4 linked regions of the Homo sapiens genome follow. The protein of the gene in region 1 interacts with the protein of each later gene in a pairwise test. Each region holds a gene or a part of one and is shown on either strand. Other genes may lie near its edges. The genes, in order: ATOX1, COMP, CFAP410 and FAM118A.

Region 1 (7,504 bases):
GTAGAGCCAATCTTGAGATTCTCCTATAAAGAAGTGATTACTCTGTCCATGAAATAGATTTTCCATCACCCTCAAATTTATTTTTGCCCCTCAGAGGTGGAGGAGGAGAGCACTGAACTGTAATGTTTATACCCAGAAGCTGGTTTCTGGCTTCTGACCTTTATACTGTGGGGGATGGGACCTACTCCCTGTAGTCAGCGACAGAAAGTTTCAGGTATCTGTTGACTTTAGGTCCTTGGGCAGCAAAAAACTGTGCTCCCTAAAAATGTGTTTCTAGTTTCAGAGCTTCTGCTGAGAGTCAGGGTTATGAGGGCTGGCGGTGTACTTTGCTTTTCCAGAACCAGCAAGATTTCCCTGGAGCGAAGAAAGCCTAGGTTCATATTCCATACTCAGTAGTTATTTGCCACATGACTGCAAGCTACCTAGTGAACTCTTGGGAACTTCACTTTCCTCCTGAGTGAAATAAGATAAATAGCTCTCTTTCCAGGCTCAGTGAGGACTAACTTAGATACTGTACAAAGATAATTTGACATGTAATAGACAATCAGTAGATTTAGCTCTTATGTTGATCTTGCAAACCCTTCAAAGCTTTGGCTCAGTATATAAGTACAAACCATAGATGAATTGATTTTCTGCTGGTTATCCTAGAGCAAGACTCAGCAAACTTTTTTTTTTACACGGCACCGATAGTAAACATTTTAGTCTTCACAAACCATAGGGTCTCTGGTACAACTACTCAACTCTGCCATTCTAGTGCAAAAGTAAACAAATGAGTTTGGCTGTAGTTTTTTGTTTTTGTGTTTCTTTTTTTTTTTTTTTTTTTTTGGACGGTGTCTCGCTCTCTTGCCAGGCTGGAGTGCAATGGCATGGTCTTGGCTCACTGCAACCTCCGCCTCCTGGGTCAAGCGATTCTCCTGCCTCAGCCTCTTGAGTAGCTGGGACTACAGGCGCATGCCACCACTACCAGCTAATTTTTGTATTTTTAGTAGAGATGGGGTTTCACCATGTTGGCCAGAATGGTCTCGATCTCTTGACCTCGTGATCCTCCCGCCTCAGCCTCCCAAAAATGCTGGGATTACAGGCATGAGCCACCACACCTGGCCCGATTTGGGCTATGTTTTAACAAAACTCTTTGTAAAACAGGTAGTTTGTAGTGTGCCAATCCATGTTCCAGAGCATCATCATTTTTTTTTCCAAAACAATTTTTTTCTTTTAAATTAAATGGAGCCATGATCTCACTGTATTGCCCAGGCTAGTCTCAAACTCCTGGGTTTAAGTGATTTTCCTGCCTCAGCCTCCTAAGTAGCTGGGATTACAGGCACCTGCCACCATGCCTGGCTAATTTTTTTTCTATTTTTAGTAGAGAAACAGGTTTTGCCATGTTGGCCAGACTGGTCTCAAACTTGTGACCTCAGGTGATCTACCTGCCTCAGCCTCCCAAAGTGTTGAGATTATAGGCATGAGCCACATTGCCCAGCCTAAAAAAACTTTTTAATAGAGGAGAGCATCATCTCAGACTGTAATGTGGGGAGGAATGACTTGGGTGTCTTGTTAAAATGAGGATTCTGATTCCGGACTTCTGGGAAGGGACCTGAGATTCTGCATTTCTGACAGGCTCTCAGGTGATGCTCATATTGTTGGGCTGAGGACCACATTTTAAAGACAAGATTTTGTAATACTTACTACAAATCCTTCTTTCCAGAATCTGTTATTGTTGCTGTCTGTGAATAGTCAGGAAACAAGATGAAAAAATCAGAGATGTTTAGAAGAAAGGAAAGACTGACCATTTTCTTTAAGACAGATTTTGCAGATTTGGCCTTAATAAAAGGAGTGGTTTACTAGTCACAAAGGTCAAACAGTCTGCACTGGAAAATCGAGCTGCTTAATTCTTGGTCTTCGTTTCCTCTGTAGAGCACAGTGACAATCCAGACTCAGCGGTGTTTAGAGACTTGGAAAGAGTTTGAGAAGCCACTTAGCCACTTTATTTTCAGGTTTGTAGTTTTGCCTCCCGTTCTCTCCCCAGTAGGTTAAAAATGGGGAGTGGCAGGGCCCGCTCCACATCCACAGAGTCAGTTGAGGCAGGTGTCTGGGAGCTGCACTTTCCACAAGGTCCCCAGATTCTTCCTATGCACACTAAAGTTGAAAAAAATTGAGTTAGCTAATACCCTTTTGGTATAGATTAGGGAACTGGAGCCCTTCTGGAGCAGAGATTTTGCCTGTGGTTTTCTAGCAAGATATATCACTACACCCAGGATTCCAACTGAGGTAATAGACTTCAAATATTTTGAAGTGCTCCATGAAAAATGTAGCCATTGATTTTTGAAGGGAAACAGGAGAGACAAATGGAAGAAATTAATAATCCAATAGCTAACCTTTTACCCAACGGAACCTAGTACTAGGCTCTAATTTCCTTAATGTGTTAGTTATCTATTGCTCCTTAGTAATTATCCCAAAACTTTGTAGTATAAAACAACAAATATATTTATAGTAACTCACACAGTTTCTGAGAGTCAGGAATTTGGGAACAGCTTGGCCTAGTGGCTCCAGCTCAGAGGCTCTCATAAAGCTGCAGTGAGATGTTGGCTGGAGCTGCATTCATCTGAAGGCTTGACTGGAGCTGGAGAATCCACTTCCAACATGTCTCACTCACATGCTTGTTAGCTCGAGGGTTCAATCTCTCACTTTGTGGACCTCTCCTTGTGGTTGCTGGAATTTCTTTGTAATTTAGTAGCTGACTTCCTCTAGTGCAAGTGACCCCAGAAATGGAGCAAGACAGAAGTCACAGTGTCCTTTATGACATTGTGATAGCTTCAGAAGCCACATAACCTCACTTCAAGCCATATTCTATAAGACACACAGACCAACCCGAGACATGTGGAATGGGATTACTCAAGGGCATAAATACCAGAGGCAGAGATCATTGAGGCCATCTTGGATGCTGGCTAACCGTACTTAAAATCCTGTGTTCATCCCATTCACAAATCTAGAGAGGGACTCTTACCCTCAATTTTCAGATGTGGAAACTAAGGCACAGAGAAGTAACATATTGATGATCATGCAACTAGTAGTGCCAGAGCTGGTATCTGAAGCCATATTTATCTGATTTCAGATGGTCTCATTTCCAGAGATTTTAAAATAAAGTATTGGTATAAGTAATCCTTGTGTGAAAGCAAAGCAAAAGATCCAGAAGTTCAAACCAGCCATGTCAATTATCCATTGACTCAAAAATAAGTTTTAAGCACCTACTCTGTCCAGGCACTGTTCCAAGTATTAGGAATCCAGTAGTGAACTGAACAAAACCTCTGTCTTCTGGGAGCTTACCTTCAGACCCTTGATCTGTTAGATATCCTAGAGACTGTAGAATGTAGAGCTTACATGAAGACTAGGAGCCGGGGATCCCTTCCTGCCTGGCCTCCAACCCACTGGGGAACCCAGGCAATCCTTTCTTTCCCTGGACCCAGATGCTGCCTCTGAGAATGCGGCCCTTGGATGAAAGCAGAATCACCTGGGGTAATGAGTAGACATAACAGATTCCCCAGCCCAGACCTGCTGACCAGAACCTGTAGTTTTTGCAAGCTGTAGGTGACTCTAGTGCAGAAAATAATTTTGTGGTTCATAAGTGGGCCCACCAGATCAGCATTGCTCAGAGTATGGGGGCCCATCCCTGTCAGAGTTACTGGTGGCCCTGAGACAAAGCTCATAGCTCAAGAATCAGTGTTTTGAAGGTAGGACTGGGAAAAAGCATTTTAAACTAGATCTCCAGGTGATTCTATTTACTATGTGCCAGACACTGCTAAAGGATTTATAGGGATGATTCCATTGAATACAACTTGTGAGGTAGAAACTCTTAGCTACTCTATAGTTGAAGAGACGGGCTCAGAAACAGGCTTCTGATGAGTCTGATGCCAACCAGGTCCTGCCCAGTCTCTCTGTCTTCTGTCTTGACCCTGAGTGGGCCTGTCTGCTGGCACTGTGTGGGGGTCACTCTACAGGGCTCGGGTCATGGTCCCCCTGTGTTTGTTTCAGAAGCACGAGTTCTCTGTGGACATGACCTGTGGAGGCTGTGCTGAAGCTGTCTCTCGGGTCCTCAATAAGCTTGGAGGTGAGTGAGTGGCCCTGAGTTGGGTGCACTTATGCCATGTTCAGATGCATGCAGATGTTGCAGGAGAGACTTAGGGTTAAGCTGATCATAACAGTAAAACTAAAATATATTGAGTACTTAGCACGTGCCAACTACTCTTGTTATTTTCTTAGTGGCTTATGTGAATCACATCATTTAATCCTCACCACGGCCATTTCAGATAGTTTTTTTTTTACTAGCTCCATGTTAAACAGGAGACAGCTGAAGTTCAGAAACATTAAATAACTTATCTGGGATCACATGGTCAGTAAATGGCAGAGCTGGGATTTAGCCAAATTAACTAGTACTGCCAGGAGTAGCTCTGGAGCCATGGCAGTACTAGTTCATATGTTGGTCATCTCCAGTGTGTACTGCATGACACATCTGAGTGTCATTTTCTATTGAATTTTTTTTTTTTTTTTTTTTTTTGAGACAGAGTTTCGCTCTTCTTGCTCAGCCTGGAGTGCAATGGTGCAATCTCGGCTTGTTGCAACCTCCGCCTCCCAGGTTCAAGCAATTCTCTTGCCTCAGCCTTCCAAGTAGCTGGGATTACAGGCATGCACCACCACGCCTGGCTCATTTTGTATTTTCAGTACAGACGGGGTTTCTCCATGTTGGTCAGGCTGGTCTCGAACCCCTGACCTCAGGTGATCTGCCCGCCTCGGCCTCCCAAAGTGCTGGGATTACAGGCGCGAGCCACCCTACGCAGCCTCTATTAAGGTTTTTTAAATGGGGCTGGGCACGGTGGCTCACACCTGTGATCCCAGCATTTCGGAAGGCTGAGGCGGGCAGATTGCCTGAGCTCAGGAGTTCCCGAGACCAGCCTGGGCAACATGGTAAAATGCCATCTCTACAAAAAATACCAAAAAAATTAGCCAGGCATGGTGTTACATGCCTGTACTCACAGCTAATTTAGGGGGCTGAGGTGGGAAGATCGCTTGAGCCTGGGAGGTTAAGGCCACAGTGAGCCTAGATCGTGCCACTGCACTGCAGTGGGGGCAACAGAGCAAGACCCTGTCTCCAAAAAAAAAAAAAAAAAAAGAAAGAAAAAAAGGAAAGATTTAAAAAAAGGTAAAAATTTTTAAAATTTTGTCTTTTTCTGTTTCTTTACTTCAAAAAAAAAAATTTAAATTAATTTTGAATCACTCACATGCAGATTTTTTTTTTTTTTTTTTTGAGATGAAGTCTCACTCTGTTTGTTGCCCAGGCTGGAGTGCAGTGGCATGATCTCAGCTCATTGCAGCCTCTGCCTCCTGGGTTCAGGCGATTTCCGGTGAATTTTTGTACTTTTCATAGATATGGATTTCACCATGTTGGCCAGGCTGGTCTTGAACTCTTGACCTCAAGTAATCCGCCTGCTTTGGTCTCCCAAAGTGCTAGGGTTACAGGCATGAGCCACCGCACCTGGCCACATGCAGATATTCTTAAAGCACCTCTTTTGAACAATCAGTCTCATCCAGCCTTGTCATTTTACAGCTGGGGAAACTGAGGCCCAGAGAGGACTGGGATCTGGTCCTGGGACTCAGTGAGGTAATAACTGAGTTGTGATCAGAGTTTTGGCAATGCCAGTGCTCAGTCAGCCTTCTAAGATTTTTTCTTTTCTTTTTCTTCCACATGAACTATCACACAATCTTCTAAAATTTTCTTTTTTAAAACCCTAAATAATAATGACATTAAGTTTTCAAATGGCTTCCACATGGACGTGATCTCATTAGCAGTCCTCTGAGCTGTACTTTCCATCTTTGGAATGGGGATGTCGATGCCAGTGTCCAGGAGGTTAAGTGACTTGCCCGTAGTCCCGCAGCAAGTCAGTGGCTGGCCTCTAGCCCTGTAAACTGGGATCTTAATCTGAAAGAAACTGAAACAGTGGAAAGAACCTAGCTGCTGACTTGTCATGTGACTGTGGGCCCTTCTTTCTCGGGCCTGGGTTTCCCCAGCTGTGGTATGGGAATGTATATCTTGTATGTCTGTATCAGCTTTTGCTGTTGATGCTTTTTTTTTTCTTTTTCTTTTTTTTTTTTTTTGGAGATGGAGTTTGCTCTTTCACCCAGGCTAGAGTGGAGTGAAGTGGCATGATCTCTGCTCACTGCAACCTGCTCCACTCTGCCCCGGGTTCAAGCGATTCTCCTGCCTCAGCCTCCCGAGTAGCTGGGATTATAGGTGCCCGCCACCACGCCTGGCTAATTTTTTTTTTTTTTCTGAGGCAGAATTTCGCTCTTGTTGCCCAGGCTAGAGTGCAATGGCGTGATCTCAGCCCACCGCAACCTCCACCTCCCAGGTTCAAGCGATTCTCCTGCCTCAGCCTCCTGAGTATCTGGGATTACAGGCTCAGGCCACCATGCCCGGCTAATTTTGTATTTTTAGTAGAGACGGGGTTTCTCTATCTTGGCCAGGCTGGTCTCAAACTCCTGACCTTAGGTGACCTGCCCACCTTGGTCCCCCAAAGTGCTGGGATTACAGGCGTGAGCCACCGTGCCCAGCCTGTTGATGCTTTAAAAATGAAACTGTACAGGAGCTCCTCAAATACAAAGCAGCAGGCTCTGGATGAAGTGGGGATGGGCCTAATTTCGTTTGACAGCTCAAAGACATCTACCCATCCCAGGAACTTCATCCAGGCTGGAGTGCAGTGGCGCGGTCTTGGCTCACTGCAGCCTCAACTTCCCAGGCTCAAGCCATCCTCCCACCTCAGCCTCCTGAGTAGCTGGGACTACAGGACCACACCCGGCTATTTTTTTGTTTTTGTTTTTGTTTTTTGTAGAGACAGGGTCTTGCTTTGTTATGCAGGCTGGGAAACCATATGTTTTGTTTGTTTGTTTGTTTGTTTTGAGAGGGAGTCTCACTCTGTCTCCCAGGCTGGAGTGCAGTGGCATGATCTTGGCTCACTGCAACCTCTGCCTCCCAGGTTCAAGTGATTCTCCTGCCCCAGCCTCCCGAGAAGCTGGGATTACAGGCACATGCCACACACTGAGCTAATTTTTGTATTTTTAGTAGAGATGGGGTTTCACCACGTTAGCCAGGCTGGTCTTGAACTTCTGACCTCAAGTGATCCACTCGCCTCAGCCTCCCAAAGTGCTGGGATTACAGACATGAGCCACCACGCCTGGCCAACCATATGATTTTTAAGGCCCCTTGCTGGAAGATCTGCCTTTAAGCTTCGGCAGGTTTCTGCCCATCTTTTCCTACTGTCCCTGCTTGGGTGGCCTCTTGAGAAGGGTCAGGAGGGTTTTTTGAGTTGCTTATGGCCCTAAAAGAACAGTGGTAGGGCTGAGGAATCACAGACTGATGGCATCCTTGAGCTGGAAAGGCCACAGGAGCTGGCCAGCCCTGACTCCTTCATGTACAGATGAGGTAGCTGAGGCCTGTGAGAAGCAGGACCCTCCTCCC
Region 2 (8,412 bases), on another chromosome or scaffold:
GTCACGCAGTTGTCCTGGGGGCGGGCACAGAAGGTGTGAGGGGCGCGGTCATGAAGTCCCGCCCTCCCTCCTGCCCAAGCCCGCCCCGCTCCGCCCCCACCCACCTTACGGCACTGGCGCTCCGGGCAGCGCAGCTTCTCGTCCGGGAAGCCGTCTAGGTCAGTGTCGCGACCACAGAGGATCCCGTTGCCGGCCCAGCCAACGGCACACTGTGGGAGAGTGTAAGTGGGTGCCCTGGAGTGGCCGCCACCCAACCCCGCCTCAAGCCCAGCCCGCCCGCACTCACCACGCACGACCGCGAGCCATCGCGCTCTAGGACGCAGTCTGCATGCTCGTGGCACTCGCTGGGCGAGCCGTCGGGGCAGAAGCGCTGTGCGCGCCGCTGGCAGCCGGACGCCTGGTCGCCCACGAAGCCGGGCTGGCACGGGCCGCACTGGAAGGAGCCCTGCGCCGGAGCCGCCGGAGGTCAGCGCAGGCCGCCCGCCGCTCGCCCCACCTCCCGCGATCCTTTCTTCCTCCCCAGCGGGCCTTACCCGGGTGTTGATGCACACGGAGTTGGGGACGCAGTTATGTTGCCCGGTCTCACACTCGTTGATGTCCGTGCAAACCTAGGGGAGGGGAACTCAGAGGTCACCACCCCACGCAGACACCTCCGGACCTCCCACCTCCTCCACACTTCCTCCGCATCCTGCCTCTCCCCTCCATCCTGCCCCAAACCGATCAGCCCTGGCGCAGCGGACCCCTCCTCTCCCCACCCCTCCCGCTGGAAGGAGGCTGGAAGAGGAGTTTACTGGTAAACAAAATGGACGCCCCCTTCCCTTCTGCTCCAAAAATGGGGCCCCCACACCTCTCACCTGCTTGTTGGCCTTGGCGAAAGCCAGCCCCACGCCCTGGTGGGTGGGGCCGCTGTACCCCGGCGGGCAAGCCTCGCAGCGGAACCCCGGGCTGGTGTTGATACAGCGGACTCGGGGGAAGCAGGGGTGGGCGTTGCACTGGGGGAGGAGGGGCCACAGAGGGTCAGAGGGCTTCGAGCTGGGCCCTGGGGGCCGCACCTCGTAGTGTCTCGGATGTGGAAAGTTCAAGGGCCATATGCCAGTGCTTGGAGCTCTGAGATGGAAGCAATTGTCGCAGGGGTCAGGCACGACTTTGCCTTGATGACGGCAAGGGCGCAACCGGGAGAGGAGAGGAGAGCTGTTCCCTCATGGGCGAGGGGAGGAAGGATGAGGGCGGGCATCCCCAGCAGAGGGGGGCAGGGGTCGTCGGGGCGTGCGTGCCCGGCGGTGGCGGGGGGTCTGGGCGTGCGTTCCCTGGCTGTGGAAGGGTCGTTGGGACTGGCGATCCCCTGCGGCGAGGAGGGTAGCTGGGGCGGACCACCCCTGGCGGTGAGGGAGTCGTCGGGGCGGGCGTCACTAGCTATGTAGGGGGTTGTGGGGGCGGGCGTCCCGGGTGGTGACGGGGATGGTCCTTGGGTTGGGCGTCCCCCCGCGGTAAGGAGGTAGTCTGGCCGTGCGCCCCCGGAGGTGAGAGGCTCTTCGGGGCGAACACTCCCAGTGGAGGAAGGGGTCTCCCGGGCGGCGAGAGATTGGGGGGCGGTAGAGGGAGTCGTCAGGGCGGTGGAGTGTCGGGGCTAGCGCACCTCGTTGACGTCGGTGCAGTGCGAGCCGTTGCCCGTGAAGCCCGCGGGGCAGGGGCCGCAGCGCGCGCCGCTCTCCGTCTGGATGCAGGCCACGCCGGGGAAGCAGAAGCCGGGCGCGCAGTGGAGCAGGGGCCGCACGCTGGGTAGGCCGGTGCGTACTGACTGCTGCATCCCTGCGGGGGGGAGGGGGGAGAAGCGGCGGGGCTGATCGGTGGCTCGCCCGGGGGCAGAGCCTATCATGGCCACGCCCCGGGGCTGGAGGCTTCCCCTTCCCCCCCACCCCCCGCCCCGGGGCGGCCCGAAATCCTGCGCTGTCCGCGATCCCGCCCCAGAGGCTGCGCGCTCTGACCGCGGGGTCTCCCCGGTCTCTTCTCTGAGTCTCTGTCCCGCTTTTCTGCCCCGTGGCGTCTCTCACTTCCCCAAAACTCTCTCACCGCTTCTGTCTCTTTTTGTCTCTGTTTCTACACACCCCATCCCATTCCCGTTCGTCCGTCCACCTCTCCGTCAGCCTCCATCTCCTTCCGTCTCTTTTCCTCCCCAGCTTTCCCTGGCTCTCTGTCTCTGTCTCTGTGTCTCTGTCTCCCGTCTCTTCTCTCTCCCGACCGCCCCGCCGCGCTCACCGCACGCGTCACACTCCATCACCGTGTTTTTCAGGAACGTGATCTCCCTGACCTGCAGGGGTGGGATGGAATCAGCGGGGTCCCAACCTCTCCTCATCCCTCGGGTCTCCCCTCTCTCTACCCCGGGGTCCCTTTCTACAGCCTCTTTTCGCCAAGGACTCCCTACCCGCCGACCCCCTTCCCTCCCCATCTCCTCTCCACCTTCTCGGGTACTTCCTCTCTCCTCGCTGGGAACTGAGACCCCCTTCCGTTCCCTGGCACTCCCTGCCCCGCACCCGGGCCCCGCACCTGCTGCCGCAGCAGCTCCCGCACGTCCTGCAGCGCCGCGTTGGTTTCCTGCAGTTCCCGAAGCATCTGCGGGCCCAGGTCTGAGCCTGCGGCGGCAGGGGACCTGGTGAGGCGTCATGGGGCCGGGGAATCCCACCACCAACTCCCACCGTTGCAGCGAACCCGGACCTCCGAGGCCCCACTGCGCTCCTCTAGTCTCGGTCCCGCCACCTGCTTTCTGCGCCCGGCACGTCCCCTACGAACAGTCCGTGAGCCCCAAACAGCCTGGATCCCGGGCCTCTCACGGGTCCTACAGTCCGTTGTGGGGCCGTGGGCACGGCGCGGGTGCTAACGCGGCTTACCCAACGGGCTCTGGCCCTGTCCGGACGCGCCGAGGGCAGCCAGGGTGAGCAGAAGAACGCAGGCGGTGTCGGGGACCATGGCGGTGGCGGGGAGCTGGGTGGCTGCTCGCTTTCTACCGCCCACGAGGCCCGCGGGGCCTATTTATCCCCAAGGCACGGCCGGCCCCAGGGACGGCCCACCACAGCCCTGCCCAACGTCCAGCCTCAAGGTAAACAGATGGCGCTGGCCCCTGCGTTCAAGTCCCCGCCCGGAATGCCCCGCGAAGTCGCCCGCGGCTGAATCCGACATGGTGGGGAAACTGAGTCCCGGGGTCTGTGGAGAGAGCTGGTGGGGCAGGGAGTCAGGGGGTACTGCCCCCACTTTCATTCACTGTGTGTGTGCGTCTGTGTGTGTGTGTGTGTGTGTGTGTGACGGGGTGTGGCTGTATCGCATCCTCTTGCTTCAGTCTCCCATGTAGCTGGGACTACAAGCCCGCACCACCAAGTCCAGCTAATTTATTTTTATTTTTATTTTTATTTTTAGAGACCGGGTCTGGCTATGTCCTGCAGGCTAGTAGTCTCAAACTCCCGGCCTCAAGCGATACTCCCCACATAACTGGGATTACAGGATCCAGCCATAGCATTCAGCTCATTGATTGATTGATTGATTGAGTGCTTGCTGTATGCCAAACCTGAGTTCCAGTTCCAAACAAGGCAGGCTCCATGGCCACGCTCTCAGCTCACACTTCGGGAAACAGAGTCACCAGCGTCTGAAAAAATAGGTCCACCCACTATGGATCAGACTGACTGGCCCTCCACTCCTCCTGAAGTGCTTCAAAACTGGGTAAGTTGCTGGGTGCGGTGGCTCACACCTGTAATCCCAGCACTTTGGGAAGCCAAGGCGGGCAGATCACCTGAGGTCAGGAGTTTGAGACCAGCCTGGCTAACATGGTGAAACCCCATCTCTACTAAAAGTACAAAAATTACCCAGGCGTAATTCCTCCCTTGCACAATGGAGGTAATAAGTTAATAATTATTAATTAATGATTAATAGTAATGATGATTATGATGATGAATGGAAAATAGGGGAGGGGCAGTTGAGACCTGGGACTCTCAATTTTCCTGCCTCTGTCCAAGGAGGCCGCTTCTGGCCCCAACGCTGGAGGGCTGCAAATGACTCCCCCCAACCCAACTCATTGCTGGTGTTCCCTCCCCTCCCCATGGTCCCTCGGCTGGTGGAGGAGGGGACAGCGTTCAGGATCTTGCCCCAACCCCTGTCCAAGGGGACAGGCCCACTTGGTTTTCCAATCTGCGCAATGGGGTGTGAGGCCCCCATCTGGAGGGGAGCAAGTTAAAGGGCTCTAGCAAGGGGAGGTCCGGGGCTTCTGTTTGTCCAGGCTGTGCCATACCTTCCAAACTGTGCTCCAGCTGCTGTGGGAACAGCCTGTAATAAAAATAAAAGTTACCGCTAACTGGCCAGCCACACTCTGGAGTTACAAAACCCCTTAACCTCCTGCAATCAGTTAACACTCTCCACTCCCACCTTCCAGTACTCACAGCGTCTATTCTATAGACAGAGAAACTGAGGCCCAGAGAGAAAAAGTGACTGGCCTAAGGCCACTGCCCGAGGGCAGGGGTGAATCTAGACTCAGAGCCAGATATGTTTTCTGGGGAGCCTACAGAGAAGTCACCGAGGGCTTCCTGGAGGAGGTAGCAAGGAGACAGACATAAAAGAAAAGGAGGACTTGGATCAGCAGAGGGAAAAGGTGAGGGCAGTTTTGGTGGAGGGAAGCATGTGAAGCTTGGAGGTGGGGACATTTCTAGACACAATAATTATTTCACAAACATCAAGGACTGTTGTGTGTCATGTCTCCTGTGCTGGGTGATGGGCACACAGGGTGAAGAAGCCAGACCCAGTCTCTCCTTCAAATGGGGAGCCCAGTGGGCTCATGGCTGTGACGGGACACACAGACAATGGTAGGAGTCCCCAGGAAATTGATCTGTTTGAAAGGGGATGGGTCAGGGCGGGCTTCTGGAGGAGGAGGGACCACCAAGCTGAGGACCGGATGATGAGGAGGACACAGCCAGGCAGAGGTAGCAGAAAGTCATTCCAGGTAGAGGAAACAGCATAGGCAAAGGCCCTGAGGCAGGAACCAACCTGGCCCGTTGGATGGACTGACCTCAAGGTGACAAGCTCTTGGGGCTCAGTGAGAAGCAGGAGATGAGGCTGTGTGTGAAAGGGCAGTGCTGGTGGTGTGGGGCTCCAGTGGTCTCCCGAGGGTAATGGGGAGCCACAGAGAGTGCGTGAAGAGAGACAGGCCTATAAGTGGAGTGTTGGTGGAAGCAGCTGGTCCCAGCCAGAGCATTTCCAATGAAGCCTGTCCTCAATAGTGCCTGCCCTGCCTGCTGCCTACATTGGGGCCATGAGCTCACCTCCTGTTTTCCTTGGCCTTCAGCACACCTGGGGGCCGCTCCTGGCAGCACTGGAATTCTCGGGAAAACCACAGCTCCAGTGGGGCCTGGGGGCTGGCATATGCTGCACACAGCTAGGACAGGAGCACATGGAAGCCAGGCCCCTGCCACAGGCTGGTCACAGTGCTGGGGCTTGGACACACGTGGCCTTATCCATGGCTGGGCCACGGGGAGTTGCAGGGAAGGGCATTCCAGGCGGAGGGAACTACAAAGGTGGAGTTCCTGAGGGTGTCCCAAGATCGGACAACAGAGGCCCGGAAAGGGGATGTCTGGGGTCACACTCCTGCCTCCTGGATCTCGCCAGCCCTGAAATCCCCCTTCTAGGCAGCAGTCCCCTCCTCCTGTGCACACCACACTTGCCTCAGATTACAGAATAACTCACTGTAGGTGTCATTCTGGGCCTTTGTACCTGCTGTTCCCCCCACCTCGTACAAACTCCTCCATCCTTCAAGGTCCAGCTATAATGTCCCCTCCTCCAGGAAGCCTTCCCTGCTGATATTCTCCAGATAACCTTCCAGCCTAGCCATGATCCTCGGGACTGTGAGTGTCTGTGGTTTGCTCTGTCCCTCCGAGCCTGAGGGGCTCCCACCCAGGGGCCTGGACTGGTGTAGAAAGGTTAGGCTGGAGGGCTTGGTGAGCCGGGACAGCATCCCTATGATTCGTGTTCATTACTATTTTTTTTTTTTTTTTTTGAGATGGAGTCTCACTTTTGTCGCCCAGCTGGAGTGCGATGGTGCAATCTCGGCTCACTGCAACCTCTGCCTCCTGAGTTCAAGTGATTCCCCTGCTTCAGCCTCCTGAGTAGCTGGGATTACTGGCACCTGCCACCACGCCCAGCTAATTTTTTTATATTTTTAGTAGAGACGGGGTTTCACCATGTTGGCCAGGTTGGTCTCGAACTTCTGACCTCAGGTGATCCACCTGCCTCAGCCTCCCAAAGTGCTGGGATTACAGGCGTGAGCCACCGCGCCTGGCCATTACTACTTTTTATAATTAATGTAATGTCATTACTATTTTTTTTTTTTTTTAAAATAGAGATGGGGGTCTTATTATGTTGCCCAGGCTAGTCTCGAACTCCTGGGCTCAACAGATCCTCCTTCCTCGGCCTCTCAAAACCCTGGGATTTCAGCCACTGCACCCAGCCAACATTATCATATGAATCCTAGTAACCCCTGCCACCTCTGTACTTGATATGGCAGGGAAGGGGGCCACACAGCCTGGGTTCAAATATTGGTGAGCATGGCCTTACTGTGTGACCTAGGACAAGTCACTTAACCTCTCTGTGCTTCAGTTTTCTCACCCATAAAATGAGGATGATCACTGTTGAGAGGATTGAATGAGCTGACCCATGGAAATCCTTCAGCCCAGCGCCCAGCTCCAGCGCTACTAGCGTGCTTATTCCATATGAAATTTATACACCGTGGGCCAGTGTGGTGGCTCACACCTATAATCCCAGCACTTTGGGAGGCCACAGCAGGTGGATCACCTGAGGCCAGGAGTTCGAGACCAGTGTGGCCAACGTGAAACTCCATCTCTACTCAAAATACAAAAATTAGCTGGACGTGGTGGCGCGTGCCTGTAATCCCAGCTAATCGGGAGGCTGAGGCAGGAGAATCACTTGAACCGGGGAGGCAGAGGTTGCAGTGAGCCGAGATCACATCACTGCACTCCAGCCTGGGCGACCGAGTGAGACCTTGTCTCAAAAAAACAAAACAAAACAAAAAAACTTATACCCTGTGCCTGTCGCTTATACCTCAGATCGTTCTTATTTCTATCTTACTCAGAGAGGAGAAGAGACAGTCTGAGGTCACACAGCCAGAATTAGAACTGAGGCATGCAAGACCCTCAAGCCCTTCATACCCGCCCTCTCTGTCCTTGCCACAGAAACAGAATCCAGCATTTCGCTGGCCCGAGCCCCTCATTAACTGGGATGTCTTCTCGGCCCAGGACCTCCTGGCCAGAGCATCTGGCCGGCGCCCCAGCCAGCCCCACACCAGGCCCCGTGGTTCCAGGAGCCCGGCCAGGCTGGGGAAGAGGGACGGGTGCCTGCATGATGGGGCCCCGGGGCCCTTCCTGGCAGACGTCTGCTCAGCCAGGAGACGTGTGGGCGCCCCGGCTCCCTGCCTCCCGCCCCCACCGTTGCCTGCCTTTGTGAATGCAGAAGGAAAGTATGTTGTGAAGGCAGCCGCCCTGCCCTGGGCGGGCCGGGCTGTAGGCCCCCAGTCTGCGGAATTCATCAGGGCGGCAGGGGAGGGCAGCTTGGCGACCTCTGCATCCTCAGCCTGCCTTGAACTGGGAGAGACGTACTGGAGGCATCTCTCTAGAAGGAACAAAAGGCAGGGGTGGGATGGGGGGCTCTGAGCTTTGAAGTCCAGGAGACGCCCCCCGACTGGCCGTGTGACCTTTGGCAGGTGCCACCTCCTCTCCCAGTCTCCTTTTTTTTTTTTTTTTTTTTGAAACAGGGTCTTGCTCTGTTGCCTGGCCTGAAGTACAGTGACAATCATAGCTCACTCATTGCAGCCTCCAACTTCTGGGCTCAAGTGATCCTCCCACCTCAGCCTCCCAAAGTGCTGGGATCACAGATGTGCACCACTGCACCCAGCCCCATTCTCCTTTTACTCAGTCCCTACCCCCATTGCATCCCAGGCTCTACTGGATGGCGATAAAGGAAGAAGACAACAATAAATACAGTGGCTACAGTTTTCTTGAGCAAGTGCCAAATGCTTGAAACCTTACCACTCAGCCTTTGTGGGTTTTCTCTTTCTGTCATCCCTTAAGTCCCAGAAGGCAGGAATTTGTCATCATGGGAGACAGTGGGGCACAGTGATGAAGGTCTCAGTCTCTGGCATCAGAGCCTGAGTTTCATATCCCAGCTCTGCTGTGGTACATGAGGCAAGTTGCTTAACCTCTCTGTGCCTCAGTTTCTTCTTTTTTCCTTTATTTCTTCTTCTTTTTTTTGCCACCTTCGAAAGTTTCTTATAATGTAAAATTTTACTTCTCAGGTTACTATACTGAAGAGTTGCTTCAGGAGAGAAAGAATTTCACCAGAGGCCGGGCGTGGTGGCTCACGTCTGTA
Region 3 (7,466 bases), on another chromosome or scaffold:
GCCATTAAAGACTTCAAAAGAACCTTGGTCCCCACAGTCTTTTTTTTTCTTTTTTTCTGTGCAGTGGCGCAATCTCGGCTCACTGCAAGCTCCGCCTCCCGGGCTCACACCATTCTCCTGCCTCAGCCTCCCGAGTAGCTAGGACTACAGGCGCCCGCCCCCATGCCCAGCTAATTTTTTTGTTTGTTTTTTGTATTTTTAGTAGAGACAGGGTTTCACCGTGTTAGCCAGGATGGTCTCGATCTCCTGACCTCGCGATCCGCCCGCCTCGGCCTCCCAAAGTGCTGGGATTACAGGCGTGAGCCCCCGTGCCCAGCGGTCTCCACAGTCTTTTATCTGAACCTGAGCATTTCCTTTCTATGGATCCCAGGTCTTTAGACAAACTCAACCGTCAACCAGAAAATGTTTAAATTCACCGATAGCCTGGAAGCCCCCACTTTGAGTTGTCCCGCCTTTCTGAATCAAACCAACGTATTTCTTAAATGTATTAGATTGCTGTCTCATGCCTTCCTAAAAAGTAAAAAACCAAGCTGTGCCCCGACCACCTTGGACACATGTTCTCAGGATTTCCTGAGGGCTGCGTCACGGGCCATGGTCATTCATATCTGGCTCAGAATAAATCTCTTAAAATATTTTACAGAGTTTGACTCTTTTTGTCAACACCACGATATAGAAGGTTAAATAAAACCCATCTGATGAGAATTTATGGTTTGTAGGGCATGACTGTCCATGCCCTTTAGGAATTTGGGCAAGATAAAAAAAGAAAAATCAGAGTTTAGTCCTCAATTACTTCAAGGCCGAGAGTGAGTTCTGGCCTTGAAGTAATCTTGTTGGAGACAGAATGAGGTGTCCGGTCCCTTTCAGGAGCTGACCCCTGAAGCTTCCAAGCAAAGAGATGACCAGATAAGTGAGCATGGTGTGTGCTTAACAGGCATCCAGGTAAACTAAATGTGCATAAGGCCTGAGAGCACAGGATGGGAACGGAGTGGAGGTTCACATTCCCAGGCTGTATTTCAAGATGGAAGGTAACACAAGCAGCTTGTCTCAGTTACATCTTCAGACTAGGGTGGAGGAGGAGGAAAGGGGAAAGGGGAAAAAGTTTTAAAACATGGTTTGAGGCTTAGCTGTGTGAAAGGAATATAAAGCTCAAGACCTTAAAATCACTAAGTCAAGGGAAAAGTCAGCTGGAAAATGCATCAGGCAAACCTGCCTCCAATTTTATTCCTAAATAAGATCGCTACAAAGATAAAAAGCTATGAAGCTCCCTCACAATTTGCCCACAAGGAAATTCCTTGTGGGCCTCAAGATCTTTACCCTCAAACAGTTCTGTTGAATTTCACCCTGGAATGTAAACTGATAGCTGATCTTCACAGGTGTGGGACAGGAGGTCATCCCCCTGCTCACCGGAGACACATGCCTATCTGTTTGCTTTCTCTGCCTTATTGTTTATGTAAAAATGCAGATTTACTAAGCTAGACCAAATTGTGTATTCAGTGAAAGGACTCAAAAGAATGCAATCTTTTGTCTCTTATCCACCGATGACCTGGAAGCTGGAAGCCTCCCTCCACCCCCACAACCCCACCCGGCCTTCAAGGTGTCCTGCCTTTCCAGACTGAACTAATGTACATCTTTTTTTTTTTTTTAAGACGGAGTCTCGCTCTTGTTGCGCAGACTGGAGTGCAATGGCACAGTCTCGGCTCACTGCAACCTCTGCCTCCCGGGTTCAAGCGATTCTCCTGCCTCAGCCTCCAAAGTAGTTGGGATTACAGGCGCCCACTGTCAGGCCTCTGAGCCCAAGCTAAGCCACCATGTCCCCTGTGACCTGCACGTACACATCCAGATGGCTGGTTCTCGCCTTAACTGATGACATTCCACCATAAAAGAAGTGAAAATGGCCTGTTCCTGCCTTAACTGATAACATTGTCTTGTGAAATTCCTTCTCCTGGCTCATCCTGGCTCAAAAGCTCCCCTACTGAGCACCTTGTGACTCCCACTCTGCCCGCCAGAGAACAACCCCCCTTTGACTATAATTTTCCTTTATCTACCCAAATCCTATAAAACGGCCCCACCCTTATCTCCCTTCACTGACTCTCTTTTCAGACTCAGCCCACCTGCACCCAGGTGAAATAAACAGCTTGATTGCTCACACAAAGCCTGTTTGGTGGTCTCTTCACATGGACACGAGTGAAACCCACCACCGCGCCCAGCTAATTTTTTGTATTTTTAGTAGAGACAGGGTTTCACTATGTTGGCCAGGCTGGTCTCGAACTCCTGACCTCAGGCCATCCACCTGCCTCAGCCTCCCAAAGTACTGGGATTATAGGCGTGAGCCACCGCGCCCGGCTTAATGTACATCTTATACATATATTTTTTCTTCTTTTTCCATCTTACACATATTGATTGATGTCTCATGTCTCCCTAAAAATGTATGAAAGCAAGCTGTGCCCCAGCCACCCAGGGCACATGTCATCAGGACCTCCTGAGGCTGTGTCATGGGCTTGTCCTTAACCTTGACAAAATAAACTTTCTAAACAGATTGAGTCCTGTCTCAGATATTTTGGATTCACAGCTGCTAAGCTGCTCGGTTACAATTGAAGGCTCATGGGTTAGGGGTTGTTCAAAGGTAGTTTGGTGAACAGGGGGCTAGGGCATGGGGAGTGCTGATTGGTTAGGTGCGAGATGAAATCTAGCTGTCCTTTTGGTCCTTTTGTGCTGCATGGCTTCTGGGTGGGGCCACAGGAGCTGTTGGCAAGACATTTAGCTGGATCCATCCGTGTGAGACATGCAAGAAACCTGCAAAGGTACAATAGTGATGTTACCTGCAGGAGTAATTGGGGAAGTAGCTTATCTTGTGACCTCCAGAATAATGGCTGACGAATGTTTACATCTGCATCTTAGTGGAATTCATGCTCCTCTATCCTTCTAGGCTGGTAGTGTAACCGCCCAATGGGTTCGCCTTGCCCACTGCCTAGACAGAACCGATTTATCAAGGCAACGGAATTGCAATGGAGAAAGAGTAATACACACAGAGCTGGCTGTGCAGGAGAGCAGAGTTTTATTATCACTCAAATCAGTCTCCCCAAGCATTCGGGGATCCGTGTTTTTAAGGATAATTTGGCGGGTATGGGCTCAGAAAGTGGTGAGTGCTGATTGGTCAGGTCGAAGATTAAATCATAGGGGGTCAAAATGAGTTCTGGCTGACTTCTGTCCCTGGGTGGGATCACACACATGGTTGAGCCAGATTATCCGTTTGGGTGGTGTCATCTGCTGCATCTGAATGCAGGGTCTACAAAATATTTCAAGCACTGACCTTAAGTTTTGCAACAGTGATGTTATTCCCAGAAGCAATTTGGGGAGGTTCAGACTCTTGCCGCCAGAGGTTGCATGGCCCCTAAACTGTAATTTTTAATCTCGTAGCTTAATTTGTTAGTCCTACAAAGGCAGACTGGTCCCCAGGCAAGAAGGGTTTTTTTGGGAAAGGGCTATTATCAATTTTGTTTCAGTTTAATCTATAAACTAAATTCCTTCCCAAGGCTAGTCTGGTCTACACCCAGGAATGAACAAAAGCAGCTTAGAGGATAGCAGGAAGATGGGGTGGGTGAGGAGATCTTCCCCTGTCATAATTTCTTCAGTTATGATTTTTGCAAAGGCGGTTTCAGTGGTCTCATTAGCTTTACAAAGGCTGTTTAGTTTTGAGGAAGGGCTGCTATCACTTAAACTATAAATGTCTCCCAAAGTTACCTTTGCTTATCCAGGAATAATTAAGGGCAGTTTTAAGGCCAAAGGCAAGATGGGGGTTGGCCAGATCTCCTTCAAGGCCAACCTTCTCTCACCGATACAATTTTTTGCAAAGGCGGTTTCAGAACGTCAGAACGCCTGTCTTAATGTAACTGTGGCCCATGTAACGATGTTTAGAGGGTCTTATCTGATTTCTAAAAGGTTGAAATGCTTGTAAGGGCTCTGCTGGACCTGCCCGTGCGTCTTTCCTATAAATGCGTCTTTTCTGTAAATGCTGGGAGGGAGGGAGACAAGGAATCAACACAGCCCCAGGGCTGCCCTGGGTTTATTCCAAGAGTTTGAATCGCGTAACTTGGAGCTGTGTAGCGCCCATGCCATCCACGCTAGGCCTGCGCTCAGAGTCAGGCCTAGGCACTCGGCCATGATGCGCGTCGGACCGAGCCCACCCCGCTCGGTTCCTGGGAGCAGCAGTTCAGCCCTCACTGGGCCGACTCGGGGACCGCCACCTGCACCCACCCTCTGCTCGCTGCGCGCTTCCGGGGTCGCGTTAGAATCGCGTCAGAGAAGGGCGCCCCAGGCCGCGCATGAGCAGGAGCAGAGCCAACGTGTCAGCGGCGCCCAAGCGGCCCCAGCGGGCTCGCGTCGCCCCGCTCTCCTCACCGAGCCGCCAATCGGCTCAGGATCCGCCCCTGACGACGCGGGCCCCGCCCCTGGAGACACGCGCCGCGCAGTCGTCACCCGCCCGGGATCAGGAGGCCGGGGGCGCCCGCCGGTCGGGCCTGGGCGGCCGCCATGAAGCTGACGCGGAAGATGGTTCTGACCCGGGCCAAGGCCTCGGAGCTGCACAGCGTGCGCAAGCTCAACTGCTGGTGAGGCGGGGCCTGGCCGCGGCCGCCCCGGGGTGGGGGGAGGAGCCGGGGCGGGGCGAGGGCGGAGCCGGAGGGAGGAGCCGGGGCGGGGAGAGGGCGGAGCCGGAGGGAGGAGCCGGGGCGGGACGAGGGCGGAGCCGGAGGGAGGAGCCGGGGCGGGGAGAGGGCGGAGCCGGGGCGGGGAGAGGGCGGAGCCGGGGCGGGGAGAGGGCGGAGCCGGAGGGAGGAGCCGGGGCGGGACGAGGGCGGAGCCGGAGGGAGGAGCCGGGGCGGGACGAGGGCGGAGCCGGAGGGAGGAGCCGGGGCGGGACGAGGGCGGAGCCGGAGGGAGGAGCCGGGGCGGGGCGGGGCGGGGGCGGAGTGGAAGGGGGGAGGGGCAGGGGCGAGGGCGGCGAAGGAGCCGCGGGTGAGGGAGGGGAGGAGGCCGGGGGTCGGGGTCGCCTGGGCCCCCCCCCATTTCCCGGCCCGCCTTTGCCCCGGGTGCCCTGTGGGCTGGGTCTGTTGTCTGGGGTTGCCAGCAGTCACTGGGACCAAGTCGAATAGGAGAGAGAACTGAGCTTTCCAGGACTGAGTCAGGAAACACGTTGGTAATCAGTACTGGGGGCGGCCGTTCCCAGGGTACTCCTAGCAGGTGACAGGAAGGGACGTGGGTGCGGTGGGACCCAGGCAGGCTGAAAGGCAGGTAATGCTGAGTCTCACTGAGCCAAGGAAGACCAGGAGCTTCCAGAAGAGGGAGCCTGGAGTTGAGGCCTGCAAGATCTCCAGGGTTCCCTGGGGACTCAGCAGAGTGACCGCGCCGTGTCAACTGGCCTCACCGTGCAGGCGGGTGTGGGGGTCAGCGAGAGCAGACGCTTCCTCCCAGGGGTGTCCGCAGACTGCCCAGAGTGAGCTCTTCCCTGTTAATTAAAAAGCTTTTCTCTCTGCCCTGGCATATCTGGTGTTTTGGCTACAATTCCCGTGTCATTTGCTTTCAATAATGCATTTCTTTGTTTTGCATGGGGTGGTCAGTACTCCCACTAAGCTGGGAGAAACAACAACCCTGTTTCAGGCTTTTAAAGTTTGCTTCATAAGTTGCCTGTTCACCCTTTGAACTTGACCTCTTATAAAGACGCCCTTGTTTATGTCTGTCAGTGAGAGAAATGAACCTTCTGCTACTCAGGGACCATGAGGAAGAGTTCATCTTTTTGTGTCTTACAAATGGAGCAACCCTGCTGCTCCTTATCTAAAAAGTACCACCCCAACGTCAAACATACAGTTTAGTTGAAAATCAGCTAAAACAATTGTTTACACCTTTGCCAGTTATCTGGGCAACCTTCCTTTTTTGCCATGCCATTAAAATCCTAGAATCTTAAGGTTTGTAGGGAGTCATCGGTGATTTTTGGAATTTTTGTCTTCAGTGTTTTTTATTCAACTTTAACAAAATTAAAGTATGTATCTTTTCTCTCCCCAGGGGCAGCCGCCTCACAGATGTAAGTATTGCCTCACAGATGTAAGTATTGCACTGATCATCTCCAAATAGCCTCAACCCAAATGTTGTAGCTTCTTTCCCAAGAGAATTTTTAAGTTGACAAAACTGCACCTATCAATTCAGTCCCACACTTGGTACTTTGTTCACTTAGCGGTTTTCATTCTGCAGAACCACTAATGGAAAAACAATTCTCTAGTGCCAGGCTTATTTTGCAGTTCCCGTCAACATCCCTATAAATGAAACACCCTTTGTCACTTGGTCGCAGAGGAGGGGAGCAATAGTTTGGAACTTGCTCTCACCTGGAAAGGAATCCCAGGAGGGCTTGTTTTACTTTGTTACGGGGAAGTTGAAGGTCTACACCCCCTCTTCTTGGTCACATCTAGCCTTGTACCCCCTTGCCGCTGCCCCAAAGGCAGGCAGAGAATAAGCCCTGCTGGGAGAACTTGAGTGTGTGCGTCTGTGAAAGATTTTTTTCTTCTCTCCCTCATTGTCTTTCTCAGTCCAAAATGTCCCCAACTTACACAGGGATCGCATACCAATTGTTTCTTTCTTTTTTTTTTTTTTTTACACGGAGTCTCTCTCTGTTGCCCAGGCTGGAGTACAGTGGCACGATCTTGGCTCACTGCAACCTCTGCCTCCCGGGTTCAAGCAATTTTCCTGCCTCAGCCTTTGAGTAGCTGGGACTACAGGCACCCACCACCATGCCTGGCTAATTTTTGTACTTTTTAGTAGAGATGGAGTTTCACTGTGTCGGCCAGGCTGGTCTCAAACCCCCTGAGTTCAGGTGATCCACCTGCCTCAGCCTCGCAAAGTATTGGAATTACAGGTATGAGCCACCATGTCCAGCGCAATTATTTATCTCTTTATTTTCCTTTGTTTTTTTAATTTGAACTGTACCTTTTCTTAAAGACAAAAAAAAGCCTGGATACGTGGCATCTGGGTGTAATCTGTTTTGTGCTGTAACTGAAATACTGCATGTTTAGCAGTGAATATACAAACGTACCATGTCCATAGACACGAGTCACTTATACATGGGACGCATCTGACCAGGCTGTGAGCTGCTGGTGCCATGCCTGGCGTATGGTGGGCTCTCACATATGTGGGAGCTTTGCAGGTTGTGAGGCTTTGTGGACCACCCCGGGCACCTCACCCCTGAATTGACAGTACCAATGTGATCTGAGATCCAGTCTCAAGCCTGTCTTCCTTTTGGCCTAGACCTGTTATCAAGAAGGGATTTCCATCCTTTCCTTGCTTTCTATCCCTGCGTAGGGGACATTGGGGTCCCCTTACCTGATGTCCTTTGAGGGCATCTAAAGTAATGAATGCTCTGTCTCCACTGCTGGCAGCATCTGACAGCAACGATGCTGTCGTAAAATTTAATAAAGACAGAG
Region 4 (7,504 bases), on another chromosome or scaffold:
AGGTGCCACCACCACACCCAACTCATTATATTTTTTAAAAATTTTTTTAATTTAATTTTTTATATTATTTTATTTCATTTTTCATTTTATTATTTTATTTTTTGAGACAGAGTCTCACTCTGTCACCCAGGCTGGAGTGCAGTGAGTGGCACGATCACGGCCCTCTGCAGCCTTGATCTCCCAGGCTCAAGTGATCCTCCAACCTCAGCCTCCCAAGTAGCTGGGACTATAGGTGCACACACACCATAACACCTAGTTAATTTTTTAACTTTTTTTTTTTTTTTTTTTTTTTGAGACAGAGTCTTGCTCTGTCACCCAGGATGAAATGCAGTGGCGTGATCTTGGCTCACTGCAACCTCCCCTCCTGGTTCAAGCAATTCTCCTGCCTCAGCCTCCCAAGTTGCTGGGACTACAGGTGCGCACCACCACACCCAGCTAATTTTTGTATTTTTAGTAGAGATGGGGTTTCACCATGTTGGCCAGGCTGGTCTCAAACTCCTGACCTCAGGTGATCCACCTGCCTCAGCCTCCCAAAGTGCTGGGATTACAGGCGTGAGCCACTATACCCGGCCTAAATTTTTTTTTATTTTTTGTAGAGACGAGGTCTCGCTATGTTGCCCAGGCTTATCTTGAACTCCTGCCCTCAAGTGATCTGCCCACCTTGGCCTCCCAAAGTGCTGGGATTACAGGCATGAGCCAGCACACCTGGCCCGTAGTGCCGCATATACTCTGAGAGACACAAGAGGATCAGGACTGAGGCCTGGCCTCCGGAAGCAGCCTCAGTGTTTCACCGGTGGCCTTGACAGGAGCTGTCTCCAAGGGGCCTTGACAGCCAAAGCCTGGCTGGGATGGCTTCAAGAGAAAAAGGAAGGGCTGGTGACAGCAGATGCAGCAACCATGCTGCAGAGCTTTGCTGGGAGGGGACAGAGAGGCGGGGTGGGGGCGGGTTCAGGAGGACACAGGGTCCCCTCTGCCCGGCTCCCAGCCTCATTGTCACCCTCTGCCTCGGCACCTGGGTATCAAAATACCTCCCCTCGCCCTCTGTGCCTGTTCGTGTTGCTTGGCCGGCACAAGAAAACCAAGACTCATAGGTTCCCACTCATCGCCACAGCTCTTCTGACTCTCCCACCACCCAAACCCTCCCACTGTTCCCAGGGGGTCTGCCATCAGCCAACCCCCACATCTCCATCATCTCCTGGGAATGCTCACCTTCTCCCCGACCTGAGACCTGGCTCTATGCATCCCTGAGACCCTTCCTGGGGGCTCCCCTGCACTCCCTGCACCGATGAAGGTGAGGGCTGAGTCTCTCCAGCTGTGCCGTCATAATTTGGGGTGATTCTCATGTCCGCTTGGATGATTCTCCCTGGGATCATGGCCTCTAAATTCCAGCCATCACTCTCCTCCAATAGTCCTGGTCCATCTCAGCCATCCACACATACAGCCCCCAAGGCCTTATCGTTACCAAGACCTGGATCCTTTCCAGAACCTCTGGGCCAGCTTCCCCTGTCCAACCACTCCCTCCCATCTGCCCACCTCTCTAGCACCCTGGCTCCCAGGGAAACTTCAAGCCCATTGAGGCCCGTGAGCTACTGACCCCACTATCACTGACCAGTCACTAGCTGCCCTGCTGTCCTGTCCTGCCTTCTTCCATCAAGCAGCTTAGAGTCTACAATGGATCACTACAACTTCCCCCAATACACTTGCAAGCCCCTCACCCTTCTCTGGTGTTGCTGGAATTCCTGATGCAACCAACTCTCAGCTTCCCCCATGCCTGTTCTCCGACTCTCAACACAGCTGTGTCGACAGCCTCACCTCAACGCTTCCTGATGGAGGTTTTCAAAAACACGCAAAAGTGAACAGAAGAGTTGAATGATGCTCAACTACTTGTTTTCAAGACAAACGATTCTCATTCTAGACAAACAGTCTCTCTTCACCTGAAGGACAACAAGGGCCCTCAGTGCTGCCCAGCGACCCCACTACCCTTCCCTGGCCTCCCTTCGACTCCTCCCTTCTTCTTCCTATGACGGGTGAGCAAATGTTGTCTACAAGGGCCAGAGAGAAAATATTTTGAGATGGAGTTTCACTTTTGTTGCCCAGGATAGAGTGCAATGGCACAATCTTGGTTCATTGCAACCTCTGCCTCCCAGGTTCAAGCGATTCTCCTGCCTCAGCCTCCTGAGTAGCTGGGATTACAGGCGCCTGCCACCACGCCAGGTTAATTTTTGTATTTTTAGTAGAGACAGAGTTTCATCACATTGGCCAGGCTGGTCTCAAACTCCTGACCTCAGGTGATCTGCCTGCCTCGGCCTCCCAAAGTGCTGGGATTACAGGCGTGAGCCACCGCGCCCCTGCCTCAGAGAGGAAGTATTTTAGGCCTTGTGGGCCAGAAAGTCTCTGTTCCAACTACTCACCTGGGCCTGGAGGCATGAAAGCAGCCACGTACTATACGTAAATGAATGGGTGTGGCCGCCTGTCAGAACCTCATTTGCAAAAACAGGCCCAAGGCTGTACATTTCCAACCCCTGGCCTGTGATGAAAGGTGTTCCTTATTAATAGAACACCCATGAGTGGCAGAGTCACCTGACTAAAAACATTTCCCAAGCTCTGCTAGGTGCAGCCCTAGCTAAAACTCTGGCCAATGAGATGAAACAGAAGCGGTGTATGTGACTTCAGTGGTGGCCCTTGAAGCCCCCCACTTCCTCCCCTCCCCGCACTTCCCTCCTCCACGCACTCCCCGCGCACGCACATCATTTACAGCTGCCCGCAGGGCACCCGACGGAAGCTGCCTGTTGAGGGTGGCAGAGCCAGCAAAGAGGGGCCCTGCCCGGCCACCATGTTCTCCTTGGGCTGCCCACCCGGGTCTCTAGGTGGGGATTATAAAGGTGCTCACATGAAGCCATGTGGTTTAAGGTCTCCTTTCACAGCCAACCTCAACTCTCCCACTCTCCTTGGTGACGAGCTCACTTTTTTTCGTGCTCTCTCCTCTGTTCAAACGTCCAACATCTCCTCCCGTCCTGACTCTCAGATGGTGACTGTGCCTCTTCAGTAAATACAAGAGCAGAAGAAGACAATGACTGCCAAGAGCCCCAGCCATAGGGTCCAGCTTCCCAGCCTTTATGGCCACACGCCATAGCTGACGGGGACAACAATGGCCTGCCACGCACCTTCCCCTGCACCAGACCCATCGGCCCCAGGGCCTCGCTCAGGAATAGCTCCTGAATCATCAGTGCTTCTCCTCTCAACTAGATCATCTAGATCATCTCTGCAGCAGACAAAGAAGCTGGAACTTCTCCCATCTTCAGATGTTTTCTAGGAAGCACCTGTCATCTGAAGAAATATGGCCGGCCTGCTTACACCAAACACGCCTAAGGGATATCCCTTCACTAAGTGAATATACAATCACAAAGTTCATACTGAGTGCAGCTGGACAATCTCCCTGAGACGATCTCACACAGTCAGGCTCCATTTAATAGGAGCTACTTTAGGAGCCCCACGCTGCAGTGTGGCTGGCATCCCCTCAATTTTAAAAGACGACACCCCGATGGACTCAAGGATTTCTGGCTCATCAGCCCGACTCTGCTGAGCACTGAACACAAGTTAGGCCTGCAGAGTTTAACATTAGGTTCACAGACTCATCCAACCTGCTGCAGAACCAAGCTGTCCCCAAGAGGTACTTGTCTGACACTTACAGGTGACATCTTCCGGATCAGATCATGGGCGACAACCAACAGGTCCCGGTCCTTTGTCACTTTCCTCCGGAACTCGGCGACGTCTCCGGGGTGCAGCACCTCCAGCTGCTCTGCAGCCTCGATGACGGCCTCGATGCAGCTTCTCCACGAGCAAAGGGCAGGGATTCCGGGGGCCACTGCTGCGCTGACGCCAGTCCCGATAACCAGGAGCAGTTCCTGGGGCTGTTTCCGGATGAGGCTTTTTAAAAACTTTCTACTTGAAAAGAAGGGAGCAAGAGAATGAAAGTCAAAGCGGAAACATTGCAAACACAAAGTCTGGAACTGTCTGCGAGTTCCGGCCTTGTGCTGTGTACACACACACACACACACACACACACACACACACAGTCCCCTCTGACGCTGTGGGGAGACGGCCTGTGTATCCTTCTTTGCGTATTTATTTCACATGTTCTACCCTTATTCCTTAAAGGACGTGGGACAGCTGTGTCTCATGCATTTTAAGTTGCCCAGTGTTAAGCTCAATTTAAGTGATACATATCATTCCTTTGAAGCTGCACACAGGTTATGAATACAAACGATGATGACAAAATGACCCCTGCTTGCAGTGACGGATAAGACAGTTACTGGCAAATGCTGGTTTCCTGCCACCCACCAATCCCAACAGTAAGTACCTCTTTATCGCGCTTCACTTTATAGCAAACACAAGCTGCTGTCCATCTGTAGTCAAAGAATTCTTTCTTAGGAAGCCTGACACTCCCAGTTCTAGACATGACACCTCTAATGACATGTTGCTTGGTTTGGAGACTGGGCAGAAAGCTGCCTTCTGGAACGTTCCTTACATTGAAGCCAAGGGTGGAAAATGGCCCTCGAGGTTCTCTCATGCCCCAGTGTTTCCATTTCACTTTCGCCCTTGCAGGTACTAAAGAACGAGTGCGCACACTCACGAGAGACGCTAGATGAAGTCAATGAAGCTGCTTGAAGGTATAGTTGCCTTTAATTACCTGGATTTTTGTTCACTTCTATTTGTTGTCTTTTCCACTGAATCCATCTGTGAATTCTAAAGAGAAAAATTAGTCAGAAGTGACTTCTGTCTCCCAGGTAAAAGTTTTTATTTGCACCCTGGAAGATAGTTAAGGCTAGAATTAAAATCAAAGGTCCTCAATCTTTACTTAAATTATAATATCTGAAAAATGTCATACGCAAATGACGTACATCCAAAATGCTTCCTAAGCCACCATTCCTCATCTCATGAGACTCATCAGGCTGGTTGGACTCTCGCTGTTCTACACGGGACAGCACAGAAGGAAAACGCACACACAGGAGCAGATGAAGGATGGGCTCTGTGGGCTCCGAGCTGGGGTTTTCGCTGTCTCTTGGGACACTGCTCTAGAAGAATTTCCAGTGCACATGAACACAGATGACTTATCAGAGAAGCAAAACACAGCAAGCGGCACAACAAAGCGAAGCCAGAGGCGGTTTTGCAGAGGAAGCCAACGAGTGCTCTAAGGTGCAGAGCACTGGACTGGAGCATGGCCATCCTCAGCATCGGCACCAGCTCCAAGGCACCAGCCCTCCCCTCGGCCTTACTGAAATCCACTCTAAAGAAGTCATCCAAGTAAAAAGCCAATTCTTACCTTATATAAAAACAGAAATCCCAAACCATCTGGGTCTCTTTCACCAAGCTATCTCCATATTCTTTAATTTTTCCAAAATCAGACCAGGCATGGTGGCTCATGCTTGTAATCCCAGCATTTTGGGAGGCCAAGGTGGACTGCTTGAACTCAGGAGTTCAAGACCGGCCTGGGCAATACAGCAAGATCCTGTCTCTACAAAGAATAAAAAAATTTGCCAGGCATGGTGGTGCATGCCTGTAGTCCCATCTACTAGGAAGGCTGAGGTGGGAGGGTCGCCTGAGCCTGGGAGGTTGAGACTGCAATGAGCCATGGCCACGTCACACCACTCCACTCCAGCCTGGGCAACAGGGTGAGACCTTGTTTCAAAAATAAAAAATAAATAAAAAATAAAAATTTTCCAAAATCGCGTTTCCCCCCAATTCTAGAAATAATATCTACTGTAAGCAAGGAAAAATACAGAAAAATAAGGTTTTGCCTATAATCCTATGACCTGTGAGCAGTAACTGTTAACATTTATATATTCCCTCTACTCTCTTTTAAAAATGTTTACAAGGGAGGCTGAGGCAGGAGAATCACTTGAACCCAGGAGGTGGAGGTTGCAGTGAGCTGAGATCGCGCCACTGCACTCCAGCCTAGGCAACAGAGCAAGACTCCGTCTCAAAAATAAACAAACAAACAAAAGTATTGACATAATTTGAGAACACAGTGCATATCCTACTTTTTCATGCATTAAAATAAATACATCTCCTTTATGTTATTAAAAACTATTCATAAATGTAAGTGTAATGTATATATATGGAATTCTCTCTTACTGACACATGTCTGATGCAGAATGTTAGTATAACACCCTGACCACCGACTTAGTGCACAAAGCCTGTATATTGTGAAATTATTTATTTAGGAGAGATTTCTGAGAAGAACTGCTGAGTTAGAGAGTATGAACACTGTAAAATATCTTAGCACACACCACCAAACCGCTTTCCAGAAAAGTGGTCAGCAGAACACGTCAGTGCTCGCTTTGCCACATCCAAACCAGCACTGACTGAAAATGACTTTGGCAGAGTACGCTGGCTCACATCTGTAATCCCAGCACTTTGGGAGGCTGAGGTGGGAGGATCCCTTGAGCCCAGAATTTCAAGACCAGCCTGGGCAACATCATGGGGAAACCCCATCTCTACAAAAAATACAAAAATTAGCCAATGTGGTGGTGCTCATCTGTAGTCCCAGCTACTTGGAAGGCTGAATGGTAAAATCACCTGAGCCCAGGAGGTTGAGGCTGCAGTGAACCACGACTGTGCCACTGCACTCCAGCCTGGGTCGCAGAGTGAGACCCTGTCTTAAAAAGAAAAAAAAAAAGAAGAAGAAGAAGGAAGAAAAGAAAAAGAAAAATTACGTGTTTGTTTGTTTTTTTTTGATGGAGTCTCGCTTTGTCACCAGGCTGGAGTGCAGTGGCACAGGCCTGCGCCACCACATCCGGCTAATTTTTGTATTTTTCATAGAGACGGGATTTCACCATGTTAGCCAGGATGGTCTCGATCTTTGACCTTGTGATCCGCCTGCATCGGCCTCCCAAAGTGCTGGGATTACAGGCATGAGCCACAGCAACTGGCTGAAAAATCACTTTTTCACATGTGTAATCTTCACTCACACACACACACCCAGCCACTAGAATCAGGTCATCAAAAGTAATTTTCCAGGGTAAGGAAACAAGGCTTAATCAGTCCATAAGCATCATTAGATCGCAGAGCTAAATGGGATCCCCGTTATCCTTTGAAAATGTAAACAACTACCTAAGTCCATGCATATATTTTCCTAGGGAGAGTTCACAGCTTCCATCAACTCCCAAACATGTCTGCGACCTTACCCCAAATGCTAAGAAATCACAGTCCACAGGCAAAGAAAACGAGGCTCACAGATGCCTGTAACCTGCCCCAGGGAAAGACTGGCAGAGTCCGGGCTGGGGCTTGGCCCTAACACATCCTTCTTCCCATTGAGGAGTTAACATCAGTCATCAAACTAATCTTTTGTTTTTTTAATCTACTAGATACTTTCTAAGGAAAGTAACAGAAGTTGAGTTTCTCCGCTGTATAATATAATCCCTCCACCATCTATTAATAATATAAGCAACTCTGGACCCCACCCCTGAGATTTCAATGACTGATTTAACTGTTCACCAATCCT

What was found.
Region 2: the proteins of ATOX1 (region 1) and COMP interact in binary tests that used the Homo sapiens proteins (3 or more experiments, as listed by UniProt).
Region 3: the proteins of ATOX1 (region 1) and CFAP410 interact in binary tests that used the Homo sapiens proteins (3 or more experiments, as listed by UniProt).
Region 4: the proteins of ATOX1 (region 1) and FAM118A interact in binary tests that used the Homo sapiens proteins (3 or more experiments, as listed by UniProt).

Annotation. Positions count from the first base shown.
Region 1 is NC_000005.10:151,748,302-151,755,805, reverse strand, and holds part of ATOX1 (copper transport protein ATOX1), read left to right. Parts: intron 1-1,683; exon of another isoform or gene 1,684-2,133; intron 2,134-2,496; exon of another isoform or gene 2,497-2,726; intron 2,727-4,026; coding exon 4,027-4,102; intron 4,103-7,504. UniProt on the Homo sapiens protein: Binds and deliver cytosolic copper to the copper ATPase proteins. May be important in cellular antioxidant defense.
Region 2 is NC_000019.10:18,788,306-18,796,717, forward strand, and holds the start of COMP (cartilage oligomeric matrix protein precursor), read right to left. Parts: upstream 3,001-8,412; 5' UTR 2,965-3,000; coding exon 2,886-2,964; intron 2,631-2,885; coding exon 2,545-2,630; intron 2,309-2,544; coding exon 2,257-2,308; intron 1,810-2,256; coding exon 1,637-1,809; intron 993-1,636; coding exon 855-992; intron 609-854; coding exon 534-608; intron 446-533; coding exon 287-445; intron 210-286; coding exon 105-209; intron 15-104; coding exon 1-14. UniProt on the Homo sapiens protein: Plays a role in the structural integrity of cartilage via its interaction with other extracellular matrix proteins such as the collagens and fibronectin.
Region 3 is NC_000021.9:44,336,259-44,343,724, reverse strand, and holds the start of CFAP410 (nuclear encoded mitochondrial protein C21orf2), read left to right. Parts: upstream 1-4,334; 5' UTR 4,335-4,530; coding exon 4,531-4,607; intron 4,608-5,022; exon of another isoform or gene 5,023-5,292; coding exon of another isoform or gene 5,293-5,491; intron 5,492-6,057; coding exon 6,058-6,076; intron 6,077-6,804; exon of another isoform or gene 6,805-6,901; intron 6,902-7,466. UniProt on the Homo sapiens protein: Plays a role in cilia formation and/or maintenance. Plays a role in the regulation of cell morphology and cytoskeletal organization. Involved in DNA damage repair.
Region 4 is NC_000022.11:45,319,613-45,327,116, reverse strand, and holds part of FAM118A (protein FAM118A), read right to left. Parts: intron 5,516-7,504; exon of another isoform or gene 5,425-5,515; coding exon of another isoform or gene 5,324-5,424; intron 5,076-5,323; exon of another isoform or gene 5,071-5,075; coding exon of another isoform or gene 4,902-5,070; intron 4,747-4,901; coding exon of another isoform or gene 4,738-4,746; coding exon 4,691-4,737; intron 3,946-4,690; coding exon of another isoform or gene 3,943-3,945; coding exon 3,690-3,942; intron 3,041-3,689; coding exon of another isoform or gene 2,906-3,040; exon of another isoform or gene 641-2,905; intron 1-640.